Homo sapiens: one gene and its partners. The protein of the gene in region 1 interacts with the protein of each later gene in a pairwise test. Each region holds a gene or a part of one and is shown in the gene's direction. Other genes may lie near its edges.

Region 1 (5,770 bases):
ATCCCACTTGTCAATTTTTGTTTTTGTTGCATTTGTTTTTGAGAACTTAGTAATGCATTTTTTCCCAAGACTAGTGTTCAGAATGATGTTTCCTAGTTTTTCTTCTAGGATTCTTATAGTTTGAGGCCTTACATTTAAATCTTTAATCCATCTTGAGTTAATTTTTCTATATGGTGAAATACAGAGGTTGTTTAATTCTTCTGCATATGGCTAGCCAGTTATCCCAGCACCATTTATTGAATCGGGAGTCCTTTCCCCAATGCTTATTTTTGTTAACTTTGTCAAAGATCAGGTGGCTGTAGGTGAGCAGCTTTATTTCCGGATTCTCTATTCTGTTCCATTGTATATGTCTGTTTTTGTACCAGTACCATGCTGTTTTGGTTACTGTAGCTTTACACTATAGTTTGAAATTGGGTAACGTGATACCTTCCACTTTGTTCTTTCTGCTTAGGATTGCATTGGCTCTTTGGGATCTTTTCTGGTTCCATATGAAATTTAGAATAGTTTTTTCAAATTCTGTTAAAAATGATGTTGGTAGTTTGATAGTGTTGATTCTGGAGCCATGTTGCAACAGATACTGTATACTTACATCATTTTATATATATCTTGATATATCCCTGTCGTAAACTCTTAGAATATAAATTATTGGATCAATTAGTTTTTGCATTGGTAATTTTGATGGATATTGCCATAAAGGTTGTACCAATTTACACTCCCATCAGCAATGTGTGAGACTATCTGTCTCTTCACTCCTTATTACATAATGTGTTATCAAAATATATGACCTTGCAAATCTGGTAACAGATAGGATTTTGGAATTGTTTTAATCTGCTTTTCTGTTATTGTGAATGCAACTAAGCAATATTTCATATGCTCAAATGCTATTCATATTCCCTCTTCCATGAATTATCTTTTCATCTCCATTGTCAATTTTTCTACTCGGTTGCTGGTCTTTCTCTTTGATTGATGGAAATCCTTTGTTAAATAGAAAATGAAAGCAAGCTTTGTCTATGAGTTACTTGTATTGTTCCCAGGTTTTCATTTGCCTTTGACACTGTATTCAAATAATAATAATAATAAAATGTTTACATTATAAATTTCATACCTACACACTGCAAATTTCTAAAAAATACAAAAAAGAGAAGAAAATAAAAATCATTTATCATGCCACAATAAATACATTTACTGCTAATACTTTAGTTTTCCTTTTAGTGTTTTTTCAAATATCTGCATGTAAATATTTATATTAATGTAGATAAGTATCCATAAAGATATATACATATATAAATATATAATAACATATATTAGTTACAAATTTCAAAATTCATGTTCTAAGATATGTTAAAAATATATAACTTTATTTTCCTCTGAGACTGTTTAAACTTATTTCAAACCCTCATTCCACCTTATGGGGGAAAAAAATAAAAGTCAGTTCTATGTAAACACAGAAATCATTCAGGATTTCTCCCTCCCAACCTTCATCTGGAGGAGGTGTCTGAGCTTTGAGGGGTGTTATGTTTGAATCAAATGGAAATTTCATAGCCTTCAAGAGGCTGGCAACAGGTTCATGGTGGGAATTTGCTGAAATATACATGGTTCTCTCTTACTCTTGGCCCTATCATCCCTCTCATGGCATCAACCAAGATATTAGAGTTCTTTTAGTCCACAAAAGAACTACATCCTCTACGTCTACATCCTCTCATTACCCCATCCAGGCGGCTAGATGGACCTGGTCATCTGACCACCCACTCTCCTGCATTGCAAAAGTCTACTTTGAATTGTATAAGCTAAGCATTGACCTAAGTCATTCTCTCTGCATTTCTACAGTAATAACCCTACCCTGGGGGCAGTAAATATAAAAAGTCCCTACTGCTGCCCAATTTGTGTGGAAAGACCAACAGTGAAATAAATTGCAGAAGAAAAATAACACCACCATGAGGACTTCAAGTCCTCATCATGACATGTACATTTACACAATTGAAATCATAGTGTATAATTTGAGTTGCACACTGAATGTTGTACTTAATCTGAGTAAATGCTCATGAGTATATGAATTGTTAAATATAAAAGTATGATAATTTATATTTTCAAGTTGTTCAAACAACCAAGTGTTCAATATGTATACATTTATATTTACTCATTTAATCAAAACAGCTCTACGACACTGCTACTATTATTATCCTAATTTCTGTTTTATAGATGAAGAAATTCAGGTACACAGGGGTTAAGTAATTATGGGAGCAGCGAGGGGGTGGGTGAGAGGCAGGAGAACTGAATGGTGAGACATTGGAAGATGAGGAAGACTTTCTACTCTTTTGTACCTTTTATCCTGGGAATGCTTGACCTCTTATTAAAATAAATAAATATGTAAAAGGATGTGTCGGCCGGGTGCAGTGGCTCACGCCTGTAATCCCAGCACTTCGGGAGGCCGAGGCGGGCAGATCACTTGAGGTCAGGAGATCCAGACCAGCCTGTGCGACATGGCGAAACCCTGTCTCTACTAAAAATACAGCAATTAGCTGGGCTTGTTGGTGCGTGCCTGTAATCCCAGGTACTTGGGAGGCTAAGTCAGGAGCATCGTTTGAGCCCAGGAGGCGGAAGTTGCCATGAGCCAAGATCAAGCTACTGCGCTCCAGCCTGGGCAGCAGAGTGAGACTCCATCTCAAAAAAACAAACAAACAAACAAAAAAGGACACGTCTGCCATAGACATTGCTGTATTATACTCACTCAGAGGTGCCCATCTGTGGATGTGGTATGGTGGAAGAAACAGTGGACCAGGAGGGAGAACATCTGGGCCATGGGTCCAATCTACCACGGATGTGTCATCTCTGGGCCTTGGTATCATCTTCTGTAAAACACAAGTGCTTGGCAGTGATGGTCATGATAGGATTAGATTATATCAGTGTTTCCTAATGTAACCCAAGTTACCTGAGAAAGTTTAAAATATATAGCTTCTCAAGCTCTCATAAGCACACATTCTGATTTATCATAAGGACTGGAATACAGTTTGGGAATCTGTATTTTTCAAAAGGCCCCCTTTTAGGCAATTCTGATATAAAACCCTGGACCAGATGATGTTTCAGGGGTTCCTCCCAGCTCTAAAATTCCATATCCTGTGAAGTATTGAGTATCATATCAGATCCAAGTAACTCATTCATCATTTACCCTCCCGACTCCCACCCTGTCCTTAGTTCTTCTAGCCCTTCTTAGAGGCTGTCTTACTTCTAGCCCATCTTACAAAGAAAGGGAAATGAAAAGGGAAGGACTAGATCCCTTGATCCAGATCCTTACTCCCATCCCTCCTTCCATTCCCACCCCACCCCTATCTTCTGTCCTCTACCCCTACTAGATGTTGTATTCCAGCTCCAGGGCTGCCATGGGCACTCCAAGAGGAGAACAAGGTACCAAAGTCCAAGAAAGAGACAGAAATTTTGACCCATCTCAAAATTTACACATGGACCTGAACCATCTGTAGATTTTAGACTCCTTGCAAAGGCATTTTATTCCTTGGGATGACACTCTGGGTATTTTGTATTCTAATTTCTCCTTCTGCCAGATGGTCTATAAGGTTCGAACTCTTAAAAAAAGTGCGTTACATTCCCATTTTAATGTAGCATTTTGGATATTTACTGATCTCCTTCCTGCTTTCTTCTTTCTTTTCTTCTTTCCTTTCTTCCTCCCCTTCTCCTCTTCTTCCTCCTCCTGCATCTCTTCCTTCCCCGGTCAAGGAAAGGCCTGGGGCTGGAGTGGGGGTGGGTAGAGGGTTCTGATCTCAGTTCTTCCCACCTATTTAGAGAGAAGTGCGAATATTCAGCTCACCTTGCCGCCGAGACAGACCATGCCTTACCAGCTTCTTGCAGCTTTACGATGAGTCTCTCTCGGTTTCACAGGGCAGTTATTACTCATGACTGATGCTCACCGGCCAAGCCTAAACGTGTGGCACACTCCCCATACCACACACAGACACAAACATTTGCCTGGCTCACATGAACCGGGATGAGGATGCCATTTCCACCTGGGAGGAGCCACGTGACCAGGCGTTCTCAGTAGCCTCCACTGGTGTCAGGGGGAACAGAGCATTCGGCTGTTGCCGGTCTGCCTTTCCAGGACTAGCATCCATGGAAGATGGGGTCCATCGCCAACCTGCGAAGATGTGGAAGGCAAGCCCCTCATTCCAGAGCCAGAAGCTGTGGCCGGCTTCCCCTTCCCATCTCCAACCTGGGCTAATGACAGCTGGCAGATGCTTGGCCATGATGACAGGTCTTTTCGAAGATGTATTTTTACCCTCTGGATAAACAGCAGTTGGCAGGAGTGGGGCGTTTTTATGAGTTGAGGTACTCAGGACTGGAAAATAAACAGCCAGTTAATGAGCCGGTCTTATGGAAACTTGCATAAATAATAACAAAGAAAACATCCCGTCCCTCATGCCTGGGTGAGGGGATATAAAAGCTGCCATCCAGATGGCTGGCCACCGTCAGTCGTGGGGAACTCCGGCTGCGTTACCGACCTGCGAGCTGACGGGCCCGGACCATGGGGTGCTGCCCGGGGGACTGCTTCACCTGCTGCACCCAGGAGCAAAACTGCTGTGAAGAGTGCTGCTGTCAGCCGGGCTGCTGTGGCTGCTGCGGCTCCTGCTGTGGCTGTGGGGGCTCTGGCTGCGGGGGCTCTGGCTGCGGGGGCAGCTGCTGCGGATCGTCTTGCTGTGGATCTGGCTGCGGAGGCTGTGGAGGCTGCGGAGGCTGCGGGGGTGGCTGCTGTGGATCCAGTTGCTGTGGGTCCAGTTGCTGCGGCTCCGGGTGCTGTGGGCCTGTGTGCTGCCAGCCCACACCTATATGCGACACAAAATGAAGACCTTTCCCTCCACCACTGATGCAGTCCCACCGAAAGCCTCCATCTGCTCCAGGGGGACAGCCCCTCGTGTCCAGAACCTTCCATACCCCCAAGACAGTGTCTTGTCTTTCTGTGATTTGTAGAGGAGGGCTTGTTCTCCAACACCTTCTCTGGTATTTCAAGGCACCGAGAACAAGAGCCATACTCTGATGAAACATTAAAACTCGGTCACAACTAAGTGATCCCAAGCTCAAGGGTGAATCCCCAATACTTTACTTATTCACATGAAGTTCAATGTCTTGTACTATAAGACATCCTCTTCTTCAAGGTGTCTTTGGGACTGATCCTCCGCCCTGGCTTTCTGCAGCTTTGAGATGCAAAAAAGGTCCATCTTCTTTGTGAGCCTCTTAATAAATTTGAGCATGCTGGCATAACCTAATTAGTTCTCTTGCCTCTTCCTTGACCTCCCTGCTGAGGACTGGGTTAGAAAAATTCACTCTGGCATCTGCCTTAGGGTTTTTGAATTGTGGTTTTTGGATCACCTGCGTCGGAATCACCTGGGAGCTTGTTAAAACTGGAGACTCTGAGGCCCTCCCTAAGACATACAGAATCAGAATCCACCAAAGTGTGGCCTGGGAATCTGTGTTTTTAACAAGAACCTTAGATAATTCTTATGCACTGAAGTTTGAGAACCATAGATCTAGACGGAAGCTTCCGTGTGCTGCATGAGATTCACTTGAAAAGCTTTTAAAAATATAGATCATTGGGTTTTATCACTGGAGATTTTACCCGTTAGCTCTAGGGCCTAGAGTCCCTAGGGACCTGCATTTTTAAAAGCTCCTGGGTGAATGCTGATGCTGGCCACATTTAATGGTGATTGAGGGGCATGGCTTTCTTCTGCACTACAGCTCTCCTAGGATGGTTCTGCAGGAGGGCTTC
Region 2 (7,030 bases), on another chromosome or scaffold:
TGGGGTTTGGTCAGGGCCAGATCTGTGCCCTGAAGGGGAGCTCAGTCCAGCCCAGCACCCCACAGCTGCAGCATGTATGTGGGCTTCTCCAGGTGGGGAGTAAGCTTTGAAGAACTCAAAAACTGACTTGTTCTTCCTGTAGGACTTTCTTGTCTGCATCATCCCTGGTGCTGTGGGCAGCAGAGGGCCATCTTTCCACAGGGCGAGGTCTTTCCTGTGTATGTGGTTGTGGCACAGGGAGGGGGTGTGTTGATTTTGAGCAGTAAACAGCATATTTTGAACACTCAGGATTAACTTGTTTTTTAAAAAGTTTTCTTTTTCTTTTTCTTTCAGGATTAGCTTCTAAAGTCTCTTTCATCTCTCCTAAGGAAGAAGCCTAGAAGAGGAGGAAGAGGAAAGAAAAGGAGTCAGGAATGCCTCTTAGGTACAGTGATATTCTCAGTGGACTGTTGTGTGTCTCCTTCCTTTCTGAAATGCCATGTGTGGTGTTATGATATATATTGGTTTCCATCGACGGTTCCTGGCTTATAACCTCCATAGCCCTTGTTACAATCTTTTGTTGTAATGTTGGATGTGTTAAGCCTCAGGGGTAGGCCTCTGACCTTCTTTTGCCTTCCTTTCACTCTGATGCTCCCCAGCCTTTCTAATTGTGGGTCTTAAGACCCTCCTCCGAGAGCTTCCCACCCTGTACCCTGGGGGGAAGAATGTTGATGTCATGAAACTTCCATAAAAACCCAAAAGGGCAAAGTTCGATGAGCTTCTGGATGGCTGAACACGTGGAGGTTCTTGGAGGTAGTAAGCCCAGGGGCGTCATGGAAGCCCTGCACTCCTTCCTCCATACCTTGCTGTAGGTGCCTCTTCGTCTGTATCCTTTGCAGTATCCTTTATAATAAACTGGTAAAGGTAAGTAAGTGCTTCCCTGAGTTCTGTGAGCCAATCTAGCAAATTAATTGAAGAGGGGGTCGTGTGAACCCCAGTTTGAAGCTGGGTGGTCATAAGTTCTGAAGGCCTGGACTTGCGACTGGTGTGTATGGAGGCAATCTTGGAGACTGAGCCATCAACTCGTGGGATCTGACGTCTCCAGTCTTAATGTACACAGTAGATAGTGTTGGAATTAAACTGGAAGATACCCAGCTAGTGTCTGCTGCTTGGTGTGTGGGGAAAGTACCCACATACATTTAGTCACAGAGGTCTTCTATGTTGATGATTGTTGTGGTGTGAGAGTAGAGGAAAAGCACAATTTGAGGAGAGCTTTTCCCTGTACACATCAGGCATTGGAGATGTCAGTCTTCTCTGAGTCTGAAGCATGCTGCCTGTGATGTTTGCTCACACTCACCCATGTCTTCCCTCAGGCCCTCTGATGTCACTTAAATTCCATCTCACAGTGACTGGTGCTGTGGAATTTGTGAAGAGGCTCCATTGGGAAGGGCTTATACCCAGACATGGATGGAGACGGGGTGTGGGCCCCATGGTGTCACTGCTCTTGGGCAGCAGGAATTGAAGGATTGTTTAAGGGCCAGGTCTGGAGGCACTGCCAGCTCTGTAGACTGGATTATGGAAGCTGCTCGTGGAAGTCTTAATGTGCACAACTGCCTGATAAAATTTGGAAGAAGAGATTAGGAAGAGGAAATCTTTTCTGCCTGATTTTATACTCCATTTGTAGTAAATGTTTAACAGCAAGAGATTCTTTAAACCATTCTAAGTACATCCATCCTATGGAGATTGTGGTATTCCTGCAGAGACTCTTGTGAAACAGATGTTTCAGGTGAAAATGGTAAGACTTGGGTAATACTTCTTCTAGGATGGGGCATTTCCTATTTTCTTAGATCTCTCAAGGTTCCCCTGTTATCCCCAGCTGCAGGGGTACCTCTCCTATCAAGAACATGTGAAATTTTGCCCTCATTAAAAAAAAAACAACAACTTGCTACTATGTTTATATATATATATATTTTGAAAATCTGGGAAAAATGACAACCCTCTGTATTTTCATTTTTCAATTTATTGTCTACATAGGTTTTATTATTTTGGGGACATGTATATACAAAATGAATTTTCATGCTTTGCTCAATTTTCTTTCCATGTATTTTAGTATGTGTTTTAATTTCTGTGGTTTTTATTTCTTTCATATGCCCTGATGTCTTTTATTTCAGGTTATACATTTTTTAATTGTAAGACAAATCTTTCATTTATACCTTCTGATTTTTGTTGTGCCTTTGTTTGTTTCATCTTGATTTGGAAGGCCTTGCATGATTATGAAGTACTAAGTTTCATTTAGGAATAAAGTTTTGTTGTTTAAAATTTTGTTTACATTTGTGTTTAATTTGAATTTTTGCGTATATCATAAGTATTTGATTTGTTGTAAAATTACAGATGTTTGTCATAAGAGGTTCTTACATATTTGGAAAACCCCTCCATTTTGTTTTTCTTTTCAAAATTGTGATGGTTCTCCTTTCACAGGGCACAGTCATTAAAAACTCATATATTTCTTTTGTGTTTGAATGGCTGTGGATTCCTAGTCAGAGAGGTCTTTGTGTCACCACATCTGCTAATAAGAATTGGGTTTTCCGGTCCATGATGCTCTTTGTTATGTCTTTTAGTAAAGTTTATTTGCCTGTTTATAGTTCAGTAATGTTAAGTATGTTCACGTTACTGTGCAACATATCTAGAAGTTTTTCATCTCGCAAAACTGAAACTGTATACCCAGAATACACTATATCCCTTCTGACCTCACTATAGCCTCTGTCAACCCATCTTTCTATGTTGTTTATATGCATTTGACTACTTTAGTATCCCACGTGAGTGGAATCACATAGTATTTGTCCTTTTGTGACTGTCTTATTTTCCCTAGTGTAATGTCCTCAAGGTTCATCCGTGTTGTAGCATATGACAGGATTTTCTCCTTTTATAAAGCTGAATAATATTCCATTGCATGTGTATAACACATTTTCTTTATCCATTCATCTGTAGATAGGCATGTTGGTTTTTCTGTCTTCTTGGCTATTGTATATAATGCTGTGATGAGCAGGGATTTGCAAATATCTCTTTGAGGGCCTGCTTTCAAGTCTTTAATGTGTATGTACACACACACACACACACACACACACACACACACACACATATATATACTACCATATGATCCAGCAGTCTCACTTCTGGGTATGAGTGTGTATATGTAGATATGTGTGTGTGTGTGTGTGTGTGTGTGTGTGTGTGTGTGTATATATATATATATATATTTTTTTTTTTTTTTTTTTTTTTTGAGATGGAGTCTTACTCTGTCACCAGGCTGGAGTGCAGTGGTGCGATCTTGGCTCACTGCAACCTCTGCCTCCTAGGTTCAAGTGATTCTCCTGCCTCAGCCTTCCAAGTACTACAGGTGCGTGCCACCATGCCCAGCTAATTTTGTATTTTTATTAGAGACGGGGTTTCACCATGTTGGCCAGGATGGTCTCAATCTGTTGACCTCGTGATCCACCCACCTCAGCTTCCCAAAGTGCTGGGATTACAGGCATAGCCACCGTGCCTGGCCAGATGTATATTTTCAAATATGTACGTGTGTGTGTATATACACACACAAATATATATACGTGTGTGTATGTATATAGATGTATAAAATATCTACACACACCCATGCCCAGAAGTGGGATTGCTGGATTATATGGTAGTACTGTTTTTAATATTTTGAGGAACCCCCTTACTGACCTCAGTAATGGGTATACCATTTTACATTCTCACCAACTGTCCACAAATGTTCCAGTTTCTCAGCATCCTCTCCAACACTTTTTTTTTTTTTATTGATGATGGCCATCCTAATGGGTGTGAGGTGATACCTCATTGTAATGTTGATTGGCATTTGTGTTATGTTTGGTGGTGATGAGCATCTTATCATGTGCTTGTTGGCCATATTGTCATCTTCTTTAGAATAACATCTGTTCAGTTCCTTTGCCCATTCATTAATTGGGTTATTTATTTTTGGTGTTGAGTTGTAGAAGTTACTTGATAATCTATTAATGCCTATCAGATATGTGATTTGCAACTCTTCTCCCATTCCGTAGGTTTGCCTTTTCCTTCTTTTGATCGATTCCTTTGAAGTGCAAAAACTTTAAGTTGGATGTAGATCCTTTAGTGTTTTGCTTTTCTTGCGTGTGCTTTTGGTATTATATCCAGTAAATCCTTTCCAAAATCAGTGTCGTAAGGTTTTCTTCTATCCTAGTTTGTTACGTGTATTAATCTGGAAATGGTGTTGAATTGTTCCTAATGCTTTTTTTGCATCAATTGAGATGATGGCATTGTTTTTGTTCTGAATTATATTAATAGTAGTGATATAGTTTTTGTTGGGGACCAGCCTCAACACCACCCATTTTTTCTTTTTTAAAACCACCGTTGCTATCATGGCTTGTTCATGGTGTCTGGTCTCTCTCCAGAGGCATCTTCCCCATCTGCAGACTAAAAGCAAACAGCATAAACCGATACACATTAAAGTAAAATTTGCAATAGTTGATCCTCCAACGGTCCATTTAAGAGGATTCACATTTGAAAGTCCATCAGCAGCTCCAGCTAGGATGTCAATTCCAGGCAGGAGAGTGAAATGCGCCTGAGATGCTTCAAAAATGTGTTCCTTTCATTTGGCTATATCCAATGTTAAATTTCCATCCCTTCCTTCCAGATGATGTCTAACTTTTTCCCAATGATGTTCAGTAGCATTATGTGAATGGGGATTTACGCAGAAATCAGAAGTATTTCCAATCACATTACATTTGCAATAGATGCTCTAAGCTCATTATACAATCTCCCATCCATATTAACAGTCTGTCTAAGATCATTGATTTGCCAATTTTCTTTGGTCTGTTTGAGTCTGAGAATTCCACAATTTTGAGGAATTATTTTGCCAATTATTTACATATTCTGCAGTTTGAACAGAGGAATGTAAAGCAATTCCAGCAGCACTCCCCTTAACATTTCTGTGATGATATGAATGTAAGGAGAGGCTTCCCATGGTCTATTGAGGGAAACTGGTATCCAAACTCCTTCTCTGGCCCTTACCAGCAACACAGATGTTTTCACACAAAACGTGGAATCAATACGGGTGAAAAGGCAACAGTTTTGACATTTAATAATTTTAGAATTAGGTCATATATGAATATTTCTGACCATCAACATGAAAGGAGGCTTGACACAACTCTGAATGGATACTGTTCTGTTGGAAGAAAACTGATACACAAATTGAAGTGTCTCACCTTCTCCATCAAGATAGTATTTTCCTTCCAAACTCGAATATGAGATTGGGCCATCATTAACTTCCATAGTTCAGGGTGTTCAGGGCCTATTATTGGATTAATTATTTTTGGATGTGGTCCGGCTGTACCAAAATTGGTCCAAATTATGGGAAAATGAGCACACTTTTCAGTGTAAGTAGTGTCATCTCTTTGATAGTATAGATCCTGTTTTAGTTTTGTCTTTCATCTATCATTCTGATTGGTACAATTAACTGCAAAAGTCCTCTTAGGGGACCAATCAATGATGATTCCATAGGAATTATTTTGCAGTAGCACACCATGATCAGCAATGCAATCTTTCCAAATCAATATTTCTAAATCCTTTGACCATTGTTGAGATTGTTGACACCTCTCTTTTCTGGTCTTAAATTGTTCCAGTTGGACCGAACTCTGTGAATGAGCCAGGCTCCATCCAGAAAGTAAATGATAGGATACTGGTCTTTGATTATGACCTGAAGTCTTAACTAGCCAATGTTGTTGATAGCCTTTTAGGCAACCGATAGCTGGCCCTATGTAAAGAGGGGGGACTGATAACCCATGGACACATTTATTAACATTCCTTCCTCCTCTGGGTGAGAGGGCCCATGAGTATCTGTAGGCTCAGGCATCCAAACACTATTATTAACATAAACCTCAACTGGGGGTTCCAACAAAGTGACAGACCTAATTAAAGGCAGGAATGGGACATATGCCCAATAGGTATAATTTTGGTCTGCTGTAGTCACAGGGAGACTTACCGTCATAGCAATTACCGCAATCATAGCCACGATGAGGTTACTCGAGTTTAGTGGTTTTTGTTGTGCCTTCAGGTTTTCTTCTGCAAGCTGGGTCAGCCTCTTGATGTGTCCCAAGTCAGTGGGCTCACTTGACGGGTTTTGTTTGTCTTCATGTGGTCAGCTGAAATGTTCATTTGAGCCATCAAGGTGTGCTTGGGGGTTGAGATCTTGGTTCCAAAATCCTTTTCTTTGGAATTTTGCTCATGGTAGAGTTTAAGATGTTTTGTAGGTACCCAAACTGGAAGCTGGTTTTCTCCTGGGGAAATACAAGCAAACCCTCTTCCCCATGTTATAACTCTCCCTCTTTCCCAGGTCTTTGTTTTAAAGTCCTTCCACCACACAGGTTTTCCTTCATGAACATTTATCTTCTGTCTTGTTAAATGCTGCTCAGCTGCTGTAGTAACCTGATCCTGGGAGATGTTCAAAAAATTTAAGGTAACAAGAGCCAATTGTAATTGCATATGAGGGGTGGAATATTCCCTATCTCCCCCTATCTCCTGTTTATGTAATTGCATTTTTAAGGTTCGATTGGCTCGCTCAACAATCACTTGCCCTTGAGAATTATAGGGGATACTTGTACTGTGTTTAATGCTCCACTACAGTAGCCTGTCCATTGTCTGTTTTTAATTTTTTTGGAATTCCCATGACAGCAAAACAGGAAACCAAACGTCTTTTTATATGTGCTGCAGTCTCACCAGTTTGGCAAGTAGCCCATATAAAATGAGAATATGTATCTCTGGTTACATGGACATAAGAAAGTTTGCCAAATGTAGGAACGTGGGTGATGTCCATTTGCCAGATCTTGTCAGGTGCCAACCTTTGAGGCTTAACACCAGTTCTTTGATGTGGTAATTGCCTGGCACTGAGGTAAGTCAAAATTTGGGGCATCAGTCAGTGAGGGGGAAACCAACAAGTCAGCTTGCTGATTAGCCTTAGTCAAGGGTCCTGGAAGATTGGTATGTGCTAGGACATGAGTTA
Region 3 (6,990 bases), on another chromosome or scaffold:
AATGAAAAGGTGACGGTGCGTTTCAAGCAAAAGAGGCTAGGCCAGGCCTAGTGACTCATGTCTGTGATCCCAGCCAGCACTTTGGGAGGCTGAGGTGGGAGAATCACTTGAGCCCAGTAGGTCAACACTGTGACCAGCCTGGGCAACATCATGAGACCATGGCTCTTCAAAAAATTAAAAATTAAAAAATTAGCGAGGTATGCTGGCTCACGCCTGTAATCCCAGCACTTTGGGAGGCCGAGGTGGGTGGATCACTGGAGGTCAGCAGTTTGAGACCAGCCAGGCCAACATGATGAAACCCTGTCTCTACTAAAAATACAAAAATTGGCCAAGTGTGGTGGTGTGCATCTGTAATCCCAGCTAATTGGGAGGCTGAGGCAGGAGAACCACTTGAACCCGGCAGGTGGAGTTTGCAGTGAGCCGAGATGGCACCAATGCATTCCAGCCTGGGTGACAGAGTGAGACTCCATCTCAAAAAATAAAATTAAAAATTAGCCTGCTGTGGTAGTGCACACCTGTGGTCCAGCTACTCGGCTGGCTGAGGCAGGAGGGTCACTTGAGCCCAGGAGTTTGAGGCTGCAGTGAGTCAAGATCGCATCGCCAGCTGGGCATGGTGGCTCACATCTGTAATCCCAGCACTTTGGGAGGCCGATCACTTTGGGTCAGGAGTTTGAGACCAGCCTGGCCAACATGGTGAAAACTCGTCTCTACTAAAAATGCAAAAATGAGCTGAGCATGGTGGCGTGCACCTGGAATCCCAGCTACTCAGGAGGCTGAGGCAGGAGAATCACTTGAACCCGGGAGGCGGAGGTTGCAGTGGGCCAAGATTGCACCACTGCATTCCAGCCTTGGCAACAGAGTGAGACTCCATCTCAAAAAAAAAAAAAAAAAAAATCACATCAGCCTGGGTAACACAGCAAGACCCTATCTCAAAAAAATAAAAATAGAAAGAGGATAGGACCAGACTGGCACAGAGTAGGGATCACACTGGCTGCTGGGGGCACAGGCTGGGAGGAGTGGAAACAGGTGCCAGGACAGAAGCTGAGGGCAAGTAGGATAGGCAGGTCTCCTGTGGCCCCTCTGCTGCCCTTATGAGAGGTGGGAAACAGGCCTGGGGCCACCTCATGGCATCAGAGGCTCACCTGTGCGCTGAGCCAACTGCCTGAGGAGGCCTGGTGCTCAGCCTCCCTCACCCCCGTTCCATCGTCCCAGCCAGCCAGCCACTGACTCAGGAGCTGAGGCCGAGTGGGCAGGAAGTCAGGGAGGGCAGGGCTGGCTCCTCTGACAGGTCAGGCCAGTCTTCCTTGCCTCAGGCAGAGCCATCTGGACAACTCTGCCAGGCAGGGGCATCCTGTCTGCCGTGGCACGGGCCAAGAAATGGGGTCATGGCACCCAGCCCCAAAGGTTGGCCAAGTGTTGGCATGGGCCTGACCCCAGGCTGTGTGAAGAGAGCCAAGCTGGGTCTGGGTCTGGAACATGGTACATGAGCCCCAGCCAGGCAGAGGGCCAGAGGTGGTAAGAGGTATTGCCGGCACCTCTCCTGCTGGAATCTGGGCCTGCCACTGGGAAGGGCTCTGACCCTGACCCAGGTCCAGGGGTCTGTCCCAGGCATAAAGTTATAGAAGGTCTAAAGCCCAGATCTGCCCCCGCCCCTCAGCCAGGTCCCAGGAGCTAGAAGACAACCTCAGTACCAACTGGGAGGCACGAGCAGTTTCAGCCTCCGGATAAGCCCCGCCAGCTCTCCCAGGACTCCTGTGATTAGCACCGAGGGGAAGCACCAAGGGTGTGCTTGCTACAAGGAGCAGCTGCAAGGCTCCTCCTCTGTCCTCCCCTCCAGCCCATCCCTCCCGCTCAGGCCCCTTCCCACCAACCCAGACATTCTGCCATTGCGCCAGTTCAAAGCAGGCTGGGTCCCTTGGATCTGTCCCTATCACCCAGGCTGGAGAGTTAGTTAGGATCCTTTGACCCCCCTCCACCCCCACAGCCCCTAGCTCCCCCGCTGTGTGCAGACTGCTGGTAACCAGGTTCTAAAGGCGGGTGGCACCTTGAAACCATACAAGGCAATGTTGGATAAACTGAGAGGGGTCTCCTAAAAGCTTCCCTTGAGCCTCTGGGTAAGTGGGGACCTGTGTAAGGCCAGGGCACAGGATTGGGGCAGGGGGTGAACACCAGGCAGATGGGGTCTCTCCGTCTACAAGAACCTGCCACAGAGGTGAGAAGCTTCAAGGACATCAGGAGGTCCTGTTCCTTGAGGAAAGCCAGGCTGGAGGCTCTTGGAGCCCTCTTTACCCCTGACCCTGGGCATCTGTGGATGCTTCTGAGGGCTTCAGAGGACACAGGGCCAAGGGAAGAGGCAGGGAAACAGTCCGACAAGAGGCTGCACAGCACTGATTGGAAACTCAGATGGTTCTGGGGCCGGGCAGGAAACTCAAGTGAGTGGACAGCTTGGCAGGAGGCAGCAGGGAGTGGTGGGGACTGGGGTGACCCATGAGCCCACATTTTGGCAGAGGGAGCAACCGCCACTCAGCCCCAGCTGAGAGTTCCTGTTCAATGCAAGCTGGGAAGCCCCATTTTAATATGAAACCACCTGATTTTTCAATGTTAGCAGTGCCTTCAAAGTTGTAAAAACTCCCATAAAGCCTGCACTAAATGCACCCAAAGGCCAGCCCCAACCCAGGAACAGAGGTCCGCAAGCCATGCCCTAATCCATGTAGACCGAGAAACGTATGGGTTGTGGAGCCCTGCCAGCCCTGGAAAGGGGCCCTGTGGGGAGAGGGCCCTGTGGACGGGAGGTCCAGAAGGTGACTGTCCCAGCCAGGCCCTGCTTAGCCCTTGACGGCTAGACACAGAGGCCATCCTGCCTTCTGGAGATAACTGAGTCCTCCAGAGACTAGGAAACCCTCCAGCTGGTGTGGCCCAGCCTCCCAGGGATAAGCCTTCAGGCCCCCCAAAGACTAGAGCTAGCCCAGCCAAGGGCCTTGGCTACAGGCCGGGCTGGAGGGGGTGTGGGTGTCCCAAGGCTCTCCGGAAGTCAGGAGCTGAGCTGGGCCCCCAAAGGCTCTGAGGCATGACTGACCACAAACGCGGAGGGGGAGGAGGGCAGAGTGTTTTCCTGGAATCCTCCAAGGCAGGGGATTTTTCTGGACTAGTCCGGCCCCTGGCACCCGCCCCTCCTGCCCAATCAAGGGCCACTGTCAACTGCAGCCCAGGCCCCACCCACCGACGGTGACCACCCCTATGCCTCCACAGCTCAGGCTTGAAGCTGCCAGTAACTGTGGGGCCGTGGGCAGACCACCACTGCCCTCCCTGACACAGCCCCTTCATCTCATAATATGGTGGGGAAGAGAGTCCAGGGCTGCTCACAACTCTTAAGGCTGTCGTGGCTAAGAGGACCCTGAGCTCAGATTTGGCATTGGAGTTTATACTTAGGAGGCTCTTGAAAGGGCTTTGTGTGGGCTGCCAGGAGTTTTTTGAAATTGGGATTAGCTACCAACAATAACACATTGAGAGATTTCACCTAAAAATCTGGATTTCCAGTTTCTCTTCAAAAATCCAAAGCTCTAGCTGGCCCGGGCTGGTCATGAGGACTCAGCCCTTACCAGCCCCACTCCCGCCATCCTGCCTCTCCAGGGCCGCAGAGGCCCTGGGGTGGACTTCTGGCATTTGTCACCTGCCTGGTGCCTCATAGGCATCTGGGCTGTGACGCTTAGGATTCCTAAATAGTCTCTCGCTTTTTACACAAAAAGCAGAAACCTGCCCAGTGTCATCCGGCAAACCCACGACGGGCAAGGTCTCCCCGCGCAGGTCAGGTGGCCGCAGGGTGAGGGCCAGGGCAACCCGGCCCACGAGCCCCTCGGTGGGGAAGGGGCGTGTCTCCACGCGGCTCCGCCCCGGCCAATGGGGAGAGGCCCCGCCCCTGCCGCGGCGGGCCCGCCCCCCGGGACTCTTAAGGCGCGACCTGCCTCCAGCGAGCCGACTCCGGAGCCCGAGCCCGGGGCGGGTGGACGCGGACTCGAACGCAGTTGCTTCGGGACCCAGGACCCCCTCGGGCCCGACCCGCCAGGAAAGACTGAGGCCGCGGCCTGCCCCGCCCGGCTCCCTGCGCCGCCGCCGCCTCCCGGTGAGTTTCTGTGGGGCTGGGGGGCTGCGGGCGGGGAAGGGGGCGCCACGGCCAGGCTGTGCACACGCGCGGGGACCGCCGCCGCGCGCACACACGCACTCTCGGGCGGGACCGCGGCCCCAGCCCCACACGGTCACCTGGGCCGCCCGGCGGGCAGGCCCTGTACGCTCCCTCCCCCGCCGTCCTGGGGCGCCGACAGCCCCGCGGCCGGCCAGGGTGCGCGCCTGAGTGTGCGGTGAGCCCGCGAGGCTGCAAGCAGACAAAATAAACACCCCGTCCCATGCTTCCTCCTCCCACGGCTGGGCCTCCGGCATGACCAGTTTTATGAATCAAACCCCTTTGAGGGGGATAGCCAAGCCACAGGCTTGGGTCACTTTTCCCTCCTGGGGTCCGGCAGTAGGTGCTGCTGTGCAGAAGGGCTGCCCGGGGTCCTCTGGACCCTTGTCACTCAAAGCACAGCTGGGGGCTACAGATATGCAGCCCTAGGGAGGGGCGGGGAGTGGCTGGTGGGCGTCCGATGCCCATCCCTCCAGGTGGGGGATGGACCTGTACTGGCCAGGGCCCTTAGAGCTTCGGGTATCAGGCAGGGTGCCGGGTCTCTGCCTCTGCCAGGGAAGGGGCTTTGCTTGGGCTGCAAACCCAGTGGCCTGGAGCCAGCCTAGTCCTTTGTGTCCCTGGGCTGGCAGTGCTGGGGCCTGAGGACTGCTGAGGTCCCCTGTGGTCACTGGCAGGCCAGCCGATTGGTGCCAACCATTCTGCCTCTCCCCCATTCGTTAACGATTGCCACACCAGGGTCACTGACCGCCTCCCCTGCTGTGGCCCAGGGGTGGAGTGTGCAGGGTGGAAGGAAGAGGTCCTGGGGGTCTAGGTGTCCCCATGCCTGCCTTTTGCACCAAGGACAGGTGAGGCTCTGGAGAGAGGCAGCGGGACCTAGAGCCCCCTTCCCCAGGCTGAGAGCCTCCAGGGCTGGGGATTGGATAAAATCTCCAAGGTCCCTTCACACTAGACTGTACTTTGGGTGTTGAGGGCATAGAGGGGTGGCCGGGCTGGGACCTTCCAAGCAGGGTCCATTAGGGCCAGTCCAGGGGGCAGCAAAGTCCAGGATGGGCCCAGCTATTGACAAAAACCCAACAGAGCTGGGGCAGGCGGGTGGGGGATGGGGAGCAGTCCCCTGAGTTTACTCTCTTCTCCCAGGGGAGTTGGCCTGGAGCTTCTGTAAACAGAGTGTCAGAGGCAGGAAGAGGCTCTGGTGATGAGCAGCCCAGCTGGATCCCCTCCAGACCATTATCTAGCCTCCCCTGGGCCTGGGGAGGGAGGATGCGCACACACATGCCAGCCTGGGGGCCGGGCACTGCCTGTCCCCACCCCGCCCCTGTCTCCTGCACGTTGGAACAGCTGTCCTGCTACCTGTGGGTCCGGAGGGTCAGATGGGGATGGGGCTGGGGGCTGGGGTCCCAGGGCATTTGTCCAGATGGCACCTCTCTCTCCATATTCTGGGAATGGGAGAATGGGATTCAGCATAAGGAGCCTCTCAGACACTGCCCAGACCTGTGCTTACCCGAGGAAGGCCCCTCTGGCACGCAGCCCAGGGGCCAGGGAGATGGCAAGGGAGATGCCCCGGGCAGGAGATGGGTCCGCGGCTCCTAGCTCCCATTACTGTCACCCCCACTGACAGCCCCGGGGGAGCTGGGACAAGTCCCAAGTACAGAAAATTAAGTCCTTGCCTGGGCTTATAAGTGGGTCCCAACACAACACTGGGCAGCCTCTGGGAACAAGAAAGCAGGGCCCTGCTGAGCCCAGGAGGGAGCTCCCACCTCAGCAGGCCAGACAGCCAGTCCTGCCAGTGAGCAGAGGTGTGTAGAGGGGAGGCTGCCCACAGGGATGGCTATCCCTGACCACTGGCCAGCCCTGAGCTCATGGGAGGGCAGCAAGGCCACCTAACTCTGTTAGTGACCTCTCCTGGACCCCCCATCAGCTGCCCTTAGAGTCCCCTCCCTGGGCTGGGGAGCCCAAGGCTCTGTGCTGCCAAGAAAACCAGCTCCCCTCACTGCTGTGGAATTTGCGTGAGTTCTTGGAGAAGGGGGAGGGTGCACGTGTGTGTGTGTGTGTGTGTCTGCAGGAGCACTGCCCAGTGGGCGTGTGTCTGGCGTGGGCGTGTCTGTGTGCGCGTGACTGGAGCAGGGCTGTGTATTTGGGGGTGGGTGGGGGTGTTTGGGGGAGCCTGCTTGCACCAGGAGGGGCAGGGCCTCAGCCTCCTTCCTTTTATCGGTTTCCACATTCCAGAGTCAGCCGGATCGCTTTCCCTCCGCGCTGGGCCGCCGGCCTCCCCCGCTTTTCCTCATTCCAGCCTCCCTGGGTGTGAGGAGGCTGGAGGAGGCTCCCTCAGGCCACCTCGGTTTTGGGCAGGGGGTGGGGGCAGGCGAGGGGCCAGTTATTCTTCAGGGTTCGGGACGGCCCCCACCAGACTCTTCGTGGGGAATGCAATAAGGTTCTGACATTCCTCAGGGGCTGCCTGAGAGATTTAATTAAGGAGGGAGGAGGGAGCCGGCCTACACCGGGAAGGGGCTGGGGCGGCCGCTGGGGCCCCTGCTGGCCCTGGGCCCCGAGCCCGGCTGGGCATTGAGAGCAGTGCGGGGGCAGGGTTGTGGTTCAGTGGCCAGGTCCTGTTCTGCCTCCCTGAATCCATCCCGCCTGCCCATTGATCAGCTCACAGACCCCAGGGGCGCCATTTCTGCCACGGGTTGGCCAAGAACCCTGGGTGATTGTGGGGGGTTCGGCATGGGGAGCTTGAGAAGGGCAAGACCCCTTCCAGGGCCACTTCCTTCTCAGACCCCCAGGCCCAGGAAGCTTAGGGCTGGCGGCCTTCCTTG
Region 4 (7,030 bases), on another chromosome or scaffold:
TGGTATTTTGGGACTATAAAGAGGGCTTCAAGGCAGGAGTCCTGAGATAAAGGGTGAGGGTAGAAAAGAGTTTTGTTTACCCTGAAGCTGAGCCTGCCAGGCAGATTTGTGTGGGACTCTAGTTATTCTTGTAGGGGAGGGAAAAGCTTCTTTCTGCTACTGCATCTTGGGTTTTCTGTAAATTAGACTAACAAAAGACTGATGAACAAGAGAAAACAAACAAGTTTATTAGCATGTACATCCTGCTTACATATGGAGTACTCAAAGGGTTGGTTTGAACTTGAGCTTATACAGCATCTTAGCAAAGGTACAATAAAGGTTTAGAGAAGTAGCAAGTCAAAGGAGGGTTTTAGGCCTCCAAGGGCAGCAAACTGTGGGAAGGGAAATATATGGGGAATCTAATGGAAGATAAAGGGTTATTTGTGCAGGTTCATCTTGGAGCCAACTTTCTGTCTTCTTCATTGCCATAAAACTTCCCTGGGAGAGGGGATTTATGACAGTCCTTATTTCTTAGGAGTTTCTTCAGATAAATATCCAGGAAAGCTTCTTGCTGTACCTGTTGATTCTTATTTGCATCCAGCTCAAAATAATCAATATGCCCTATGGAAGTGGCATATTTTGATCAGAAACCTGTTCTGTATGCAGCTTCTCTCTAGCTATGGTTTTACACCCATGTGTGGTGTTGAGGAATATTTGTTGGTTTCTTCTGAGGGCTGAGGGAAAATCTGTTCCAGGTGTCTCCCCCAGCTGCCAGTGGTTTGCTGGCAATCCTCGGCATTCCTTGGCTTACAAAAGCGTTGCCTTGATCGCTGCCTCCAACTTCACGTGGTATTCTCATTGTGTGCGTGTCTGTCTCCGCATTTCTCCTTTTAAAAAGGACATCCAGTCATATTAGATTAGGGCCCACCCTAGTGACTTCAGTTAAATGTGATTACCTCTGTAAAGACTGTCTCCAAATAAGATCACATTCTGAGGTACTGGGAGTTGAGACTCCAACGTCTCTTTTTTTGGAGGGGGAGGGCACAATTCAAACCATAACAGGCTCTGCAGAAGCAGAGAAGGGATCTTTTTCACAGCTTGGTTGGGGAATATGGAGGAATCCATAACCAGCTCGTGGTTCAGGGATGTGGGTGATGCTGTCGCAGCCCAGGACCCTGGACAGAGCTGATCCATGCACACTGACAGATTTGGCGTGGGCAATGTGTGCTGGTGTCATTTGCACATGGATTTTTGTTGAAGGGAACAAAATCTAGTCAAACCAGTTCAACGAAAATGTGTGTGGTGTGTATCTGTGGGAGAGCAGGGAGAAGTGGTGTATTTTAGGGTCAGAGGAATCACATGGAAATCCAGGAAACAGGAGGAGCCAGGCCTCGGAAAGGGCTTGAACTGAGGCAACCCTGGAAACCTCTGCCTCTCCTCTCATGGCTTCTCAGCTTCTCTGAGCATGCCAACTGTGGTCTCCTTTCTCTCCCCACCACCTCCCTCTGATTGCATTGTTCCTTCGTAACTGATACTCTAATACCACAGTGGTGGCCCCAGCATGCAACCCACCCATCTCTGCACAACCTTGCAGTTCAAGCATCCACTGAATCTTCTCTGTGTTTATTTGTTCAAAGTCCCAACAGAAGAGAGTGGTAGCTTGATTTCCCTTTGTAAGAAAGACAACCCAAGTCAGAGTTCATTGCCAGCCTAATAATGGGCCTCACTCTGGTGAGGGTGCTGCCCCTGGCAGGTCTAATTCTCTGTGACTATGAGGTGGGGTCACATGGCTTGCTACTCCTCTAGCAGGAGCCATGGGTGGGGACTGATTCTTTGAGTTGGAAGCATGAGTGGAAACTGCATCCCAAACATACCCAGGAGCAGAACTTCACTACAGAGGGACCAATTATACTGCTTTTATTGCCAAATGCAACAGTTGAAAGGATAGAGAGCATCACTCACTCATTAACTTGTCCATTTGTTCACTCATTCATTCTTCATTAACTTCTTAAATATTTGTTGGGTGTGTGTGCCAGGCATTATGCTAGTCACTGAGATTACTAGAATTAGGCCAATATGGCCCCTATCCTTCTGGAGCCTGTAGTCTAATAGGGAAGATGAAAAAGAATTTCATGAATAAATCAGTAACCATATAATTACAAATTGTGATATGTGCTGTTTTAATATGAGTGAGAATATTAGGAATGGTCTTGAATTAGATGATGTGAGAAGGCCTCTCAGGAGCAATGGGGAAAAGAATCCCAAAGCCAATGCTTGGAGGGATATTAATACATGCATCTTTGCTACAGTGGCTGACTGTACCTTTGGATTGGTCCCCAGAAATTAGTCTGGTGAAACAAAAATACATGGATTAGACATCTAATTCCTTCCTGCCACCAATTCTTAGGTGCCGGGGCTTCCTACTTTCAGATGCTTCAGCAATTTGGGTCTGTTTAGGAGTGCCTGCTGGGCTGGCTGTTTGAGTTCATGTAAGGAGATTGTCCTAATCCGTAGTTATATGGGCACCTCATTAGGCAGTGGACATCTTGCCCCTGACCATAATGTTTGCATTTGAATGAGCCTTGAAGACAGATTGTGTTTTCTAAGCTCTGCTTCCTCCTGAGATCAGCATCCTATTGCTGCTGTCTTTTGAGAGATGAAATGTAGTCACCATACTGCTCCGCTAATTTCTGGACCTTTGGATTTGTTTTTTTTTTCAATAGTCAATTACACATGGGTGCCACAGTCTGTGCTCTGCAGCATATGTTCTGCAAATGGGGAATGACAGTGCTTATCACCACGCAACTCCAGAGGAGTCTGGGCGGAGACACCACAAATGTTCCCTTTAATAGGCACTTTCTCCTTTCTTCCCCCTTCCCTTAATTGGTGTGAATTGAAAAACAGTCAGGCTGAGTTTGTGAGCTGCTTAAGTCTTATTCTGTTGTTAGTTCTCCTTGGAGAAAGTCATTCCTTGTCTCCCTGCACCCCACCAGGTCAGCTTCTGCTTTGGTTTAAAGTCATGGTGGCAGAAACTGAGGCTGGAGAAAGTATGACCGCCAATGTGGACACTTTCCAGAGCCCTCTCCGTTCATCACTCTAGGGCAGTGGTCTGCAACCTTTTCAGCACCAGGGCTGGTTTGGTGGAAGACAATTTTTCCACAGACTGATGGGGAGGTGGGGCGGGGCGGGAGGGATGGTTTCGGGATGAAGCTGTTCCACTTCAGATCATGAGGCATTAATTAGATTCTCATAAGGAGCATACAACCCAGATCCCTCGCGTGTGCAGGTCACAATAGGGTTCCTGCTCCTGTGAGAATCGAATGCCCCTGCTGATCTGACAGGAGGCAGAGCTCAGGCTAATGCTGGATTGCCTGCTGCTCACCTCCTGCTCTGCAGCCCGGTTCCTAACAGGCCACCAACCAGTACCGGTCGGTGGCCTGGGGAGTTGGGGACCCCTGTTCTAGGGCACTCAGTTCCCCTGACTGCACACGGCCCCTTGGATCACAGCCTAAGCTAAGATGATGGTTGGAGACATAGGTGGACAGTATGACGTGCACACTGTCACGGCACAGGGTCTGAATGGGGTAATAGGCATTTGTTTGGTTGAATTAAATGGTGCAATGCCAGGCCTAGAGACACCCTGACTGACATGGTGGGCTGCAGCAGCAGGGCCATCCCAGTGTCAGCTGAACCTTGAGGGTTTGCCTGGAAAGTGGGTTTTTGCTGCTGGCTTCCCTGGCGGTGGCAGTCAGGGAAGGACCCTTCTAAGTAGAACGAATAGCCAATATAAAGAGGAGGAAGCCTCTCTGATGTGTGGGAGGCCAGTGTGGCTGCAGTAGAGTAAGCAAGATGCAAAGCAGTAAGGAATGGATTCTCTGAGAGAGGTCATAGGGAGCAGTGCCTCGTAGGTATTGTGAGGTCCTTGGCTTTTACTCTGAATGGGGGAGGGGGACATTGCAGGATTTGGAGTAGAATTGTAGGACGACCTGTCTTAAGTTTTAAGAGGATTGAACATAGCAGTTTTATGGTGCATTAATCAGGGGGAATTAAATGTGGAAGGAGAGGGACCAGTTAGGCAGCAACAGTGATAACTCAGGCCAAGAGATGGCGGTGGCTTGCAGCAGGAGGGAGCAGTGGAGACAGTGAGATATGCTTAGATTCGGGATGTATGTGTTGTAGGTCAAGCAAATGGGGTTTTCCTCTTGGAATGGATGTGGGTATGAGAAGGAGAGAGGAGCCAGTGGTGACTCCGAGGTTTCTGGTCTGAATAGCTAGAAGAATGAGGGCTGCATCGAGGCCTTCCCTAGTGAAAACCTTGATCTAAGTAGTCATCGACATTGGCATAAATCATGCCATTGCCTTACCTTTTGTACCACGGTACTTTTTTTTTTTTTTTTAATTTTACTGACAGTTCTGGGATACAAGTGCAGAACATGCAGGTTTGTTACGTAGGTATACATGTGCCATGGTGGTTTGCTGCACCTATCTTCCCGTCATCTAGGTTTTAAGCCCCATATGCATTAGCTATTTGTCCTAATGCTCTCCCTTCCTTGCAACTCCCCCACCCCCTGACAGGCCCCAGTGTGTGATGTTTCTCTCCCCGTGGCCATATGTTCTCATTGTTCAACTCCCACTTATGAGTGAGAACAGGCAGTGTTTGGTTTTCTGTTCCTGTGTTAGTTTGCTGAGAATGATGGCTTCCAGCTTTATCCCTGTCCCTGCAAAGGACATGATCTCATTTCTTTTTATGGCTGCATAGTATTCCATGGTATATATGTTGACATTTTCTTTATCCAATCTATCATTGATGGGCATTTGGGTTGGTTCCAAGTGTTTGTTGTTGTAAATAGTGCTGCGATAAACATACGTGTGCATATGTCTTTATAGTAGAATGATTTCTATTCCTTTGGGTATATACCTAGTAATGGGATTGCTGGGCCAAATGGTATTTCTCGTTCTAGATCCTTGAGGAATTGTTTTCCACAATAGTTGAACTAATTTACATTCCCACCAACAGTGTAAAAGTATTCTTATTTCTCCACAGCCTCACCAGCATCTATAGTTTCTTGACTTTTTAGTAATCGCCATTCTGACTGGCATGAGATGGTATCTCATTGTGCATTTCTCAGATGATCAGTGGTGTTGAGCGTTTTTTCATGTTTGTTGGCCACATAAATGTCTTCTTTCTAGAAGTGTCTGTTTATATCCTTTGTCCACATTTTGATGGGGTTGTTTGTTTCTTGTAAATTTGTTTAAGTTTCTTATAGATTCTGGATATTAGCCCTTTGTCAGATGAGTAGATTGCAAAAATTTTCTCCCATTCTGTAGGTTGCCTGTTCACTTTGATGATAGTTTCTTTTGCTGTGCAGAAACTCTTCAGTTTAATTAGATCCCATTTGTTAATTTTGGTTTTTGCTGCAATTGCTTTTGGTGTTTTTGTCATGAAGTCTTTGCCCATGCATATGTCCTGATTGGTATTGCCTAGGTTTTCTTCTAGGGTTTTAAATTTTTATTTATTTATTTTTTTGAGACAGAGTCTCACTCTGTCTCCCTGGCTGGAGTGCAGCGGAGCAATCTCGGCTCACTGCAAGCTCCACCTCCTGGGTTCACGCCATTCTCCTGCCTCAGCCTCCCGAGTAGCTGGGACTACACAGGAGCCCACCACCACGCCCGGCTAATTTTTTGTATTTTTAGTAGAGACGGGGTTTCACCGTGTTAGCCAGGAAGGTCTCGATCTCCTGACCTCATGATCCGCCCATCTCAGCCTCCCAAAGTGCTGGGATTACAGGCATGAGCCACCACGCCCAGCCTCTTCTAGGGTTTTTATGGTTTGGGATTTTACATTTAAGTTTGTAATCCATCTTGAGTTAATTTTCGTGTAAGATATAAGGAAGGGGTCCAGTTTCAGTTTTCCACATATGGCTGGCCAGTTTTCCCAGCACCATTTATTAAATAGGAGATCCTTATTCCATTGCTTCTTTTTGTCAGGTTTGTCGAAGATCAGGTGGTTGTAGATGCGTGGTGTTATTTCTGAGGTCTCTGTTCTGTTCCATTGGTCTATATATCTGTTTGAGTACCAGTCCCATAGCATGGTACATTTACAAAGCCCTTGTGTCATCATGTTTAGCCCTCACAGACACCCTAAGAAAAATAACTTCTGTCTTCATTTTGCAGGTGAGGAAACTGAGGCATAGATCTTTGAGGTCTCTCTGAAAATTCCCTCTATTTTATGGAAGTTGCCCCTTTTCACCTTGTCTTTTAGTTAGGTAACTGCATGTCATCTTCCCCACTAGCTGGTACATTGTTGGAGGGCAGAGCTGTATGGAGGGTTAACTTTGAGTCCATTCAGCATCACTGCAATAGCAGGAACGTGGTAGGTCAGAGAAACTAATCATTATTGTAGCATAGGTCCCATTGAGAATCCTGTGACCGCTAGAAACACACTTCTTCCCATTAAAATATGCACATGTGCAGTTCTGCATTGTAATGTCGCCAAAACTCATTCATGGAAGCCAGTTAAGGTCCCTGGCAAAATGTGCTTATTTTACTCTGTAACTATTTAGTAAACAAATACAATAGGTATAGCCAAAGCATTCTGCCTAAGGTTTGAATTCTTGAAGCCAGGAGCTTGTCAAGAGTCGGAAAACAATTCTTACAGTCTGTTCAGATCAATTAAGTTCAGTAAGCCTGTCCTGAGTGATGGTCCTTAGCTGGGTGTTTGGGCCCAGAGATGAATAAAACAGTTCGGGAAGCTTACAGTCCAGTCATAACCTCTCTTTCTGTATGAGGCAGCAGAGAGCACCATTATTAGTACTAATGTCCCCATTGGACAGGTTGGGGGCAGTGCCCCCTTTGCTTCATGTTACTAGAGCTGCCATCATCCCCTTCATACTTCCTTGCAGCCTCATGTTGAATGATCTGGGCACCTCTGTAGAATGCAAGCTCTATGATGGCAGGGCCATGTCTGTTGTTCTTCTTCAGCACAGAGCAGGTGCTCAGCGGCTGCTGATTGGATGGATGAAGAGGTGGATTCATAGGTGGATGGATAGTT

Evidence for each region.
Region 2: the proteins of KRTAP17-1 (region 1) and ZNF578 interact in binary tests that used the Homo sapiens proteins (3 or more experiments, as listed by UniProt).
Region 3: the proteins of KRTAP17-1 (region 1) and VASN interact in binary tests that used the Homo sapiens proteins (3 or more experiments, as listed by UniProt).
Region 4: the proteins of KRTAP17-1 (region 1) and DOCK2 interact in binary tests that used the Homo sapiens proteins (3 or more experiments, as listed by UniProt).

The regions. Positions count from the first base shown.
Region 1 is NC_000017.11:41,314,412-41,320,181, reverse strand, and holds KRTAP17-1 (keratin-associated protein 17-1), read left to right. Parts: upstream 1-4,471; 5' UTR 4,472-4,531; coding exon 4,532-4,849; 3' UTR 4,850-5,270; downstream 5,271-5,770. UniProt on the Homo sapiens protein: In the hair cortex, hair keratin intermediate filaments are embedded in an interfilamentous matrix, consisting of hair keratin-associated proteins (KRTAP), which are essential for the formation of a rigid and resistant hair shaft through their extensive disulfide bond cross-linking with abundant cysteine residues of hair keratins.
Region 2 is NC_000019.10:52,456,535-52,463,564, forward strand, and holds part of ZNF578 (zinc finger protein 578), read left to right. Parts: intron 1-142; exon of another isoform or gene 143-202; intron 203-333; 5' UTR 334-424; intron 425-7,030. UniProt on the Homo sapiens protein: May be involved in transcriptional regulation.
Region 3 is NC_000016.10:4,367,874-4,374,863, forward strand, and holds the start of VASN (vasorin precursor), read left to right. Parts: upstream 1-3,974; 5' UTR 3,975-4,120; intron 4,121-6,990. UniProt on the Homo sapiens protein: May act as an inhibitor of TGF-beta signaling.
Region 4 is NC_000005.10:169,640,260-169,647,289, forward strand, and holds part of DOCK2 (dedicator of cytokinesis protein 2), read left to right. Parts: intron 1-7,030. UniProt on the Homo sapiens protein: Involved in cytoskeletal rearrangements required for lymphocyte migration in response of chemokines. Activates RAC1 and RAC2, but not CDC42, by functioning as a guanine nucleotide exchange factor (GEF), which exchanges bound GDP for free GTP.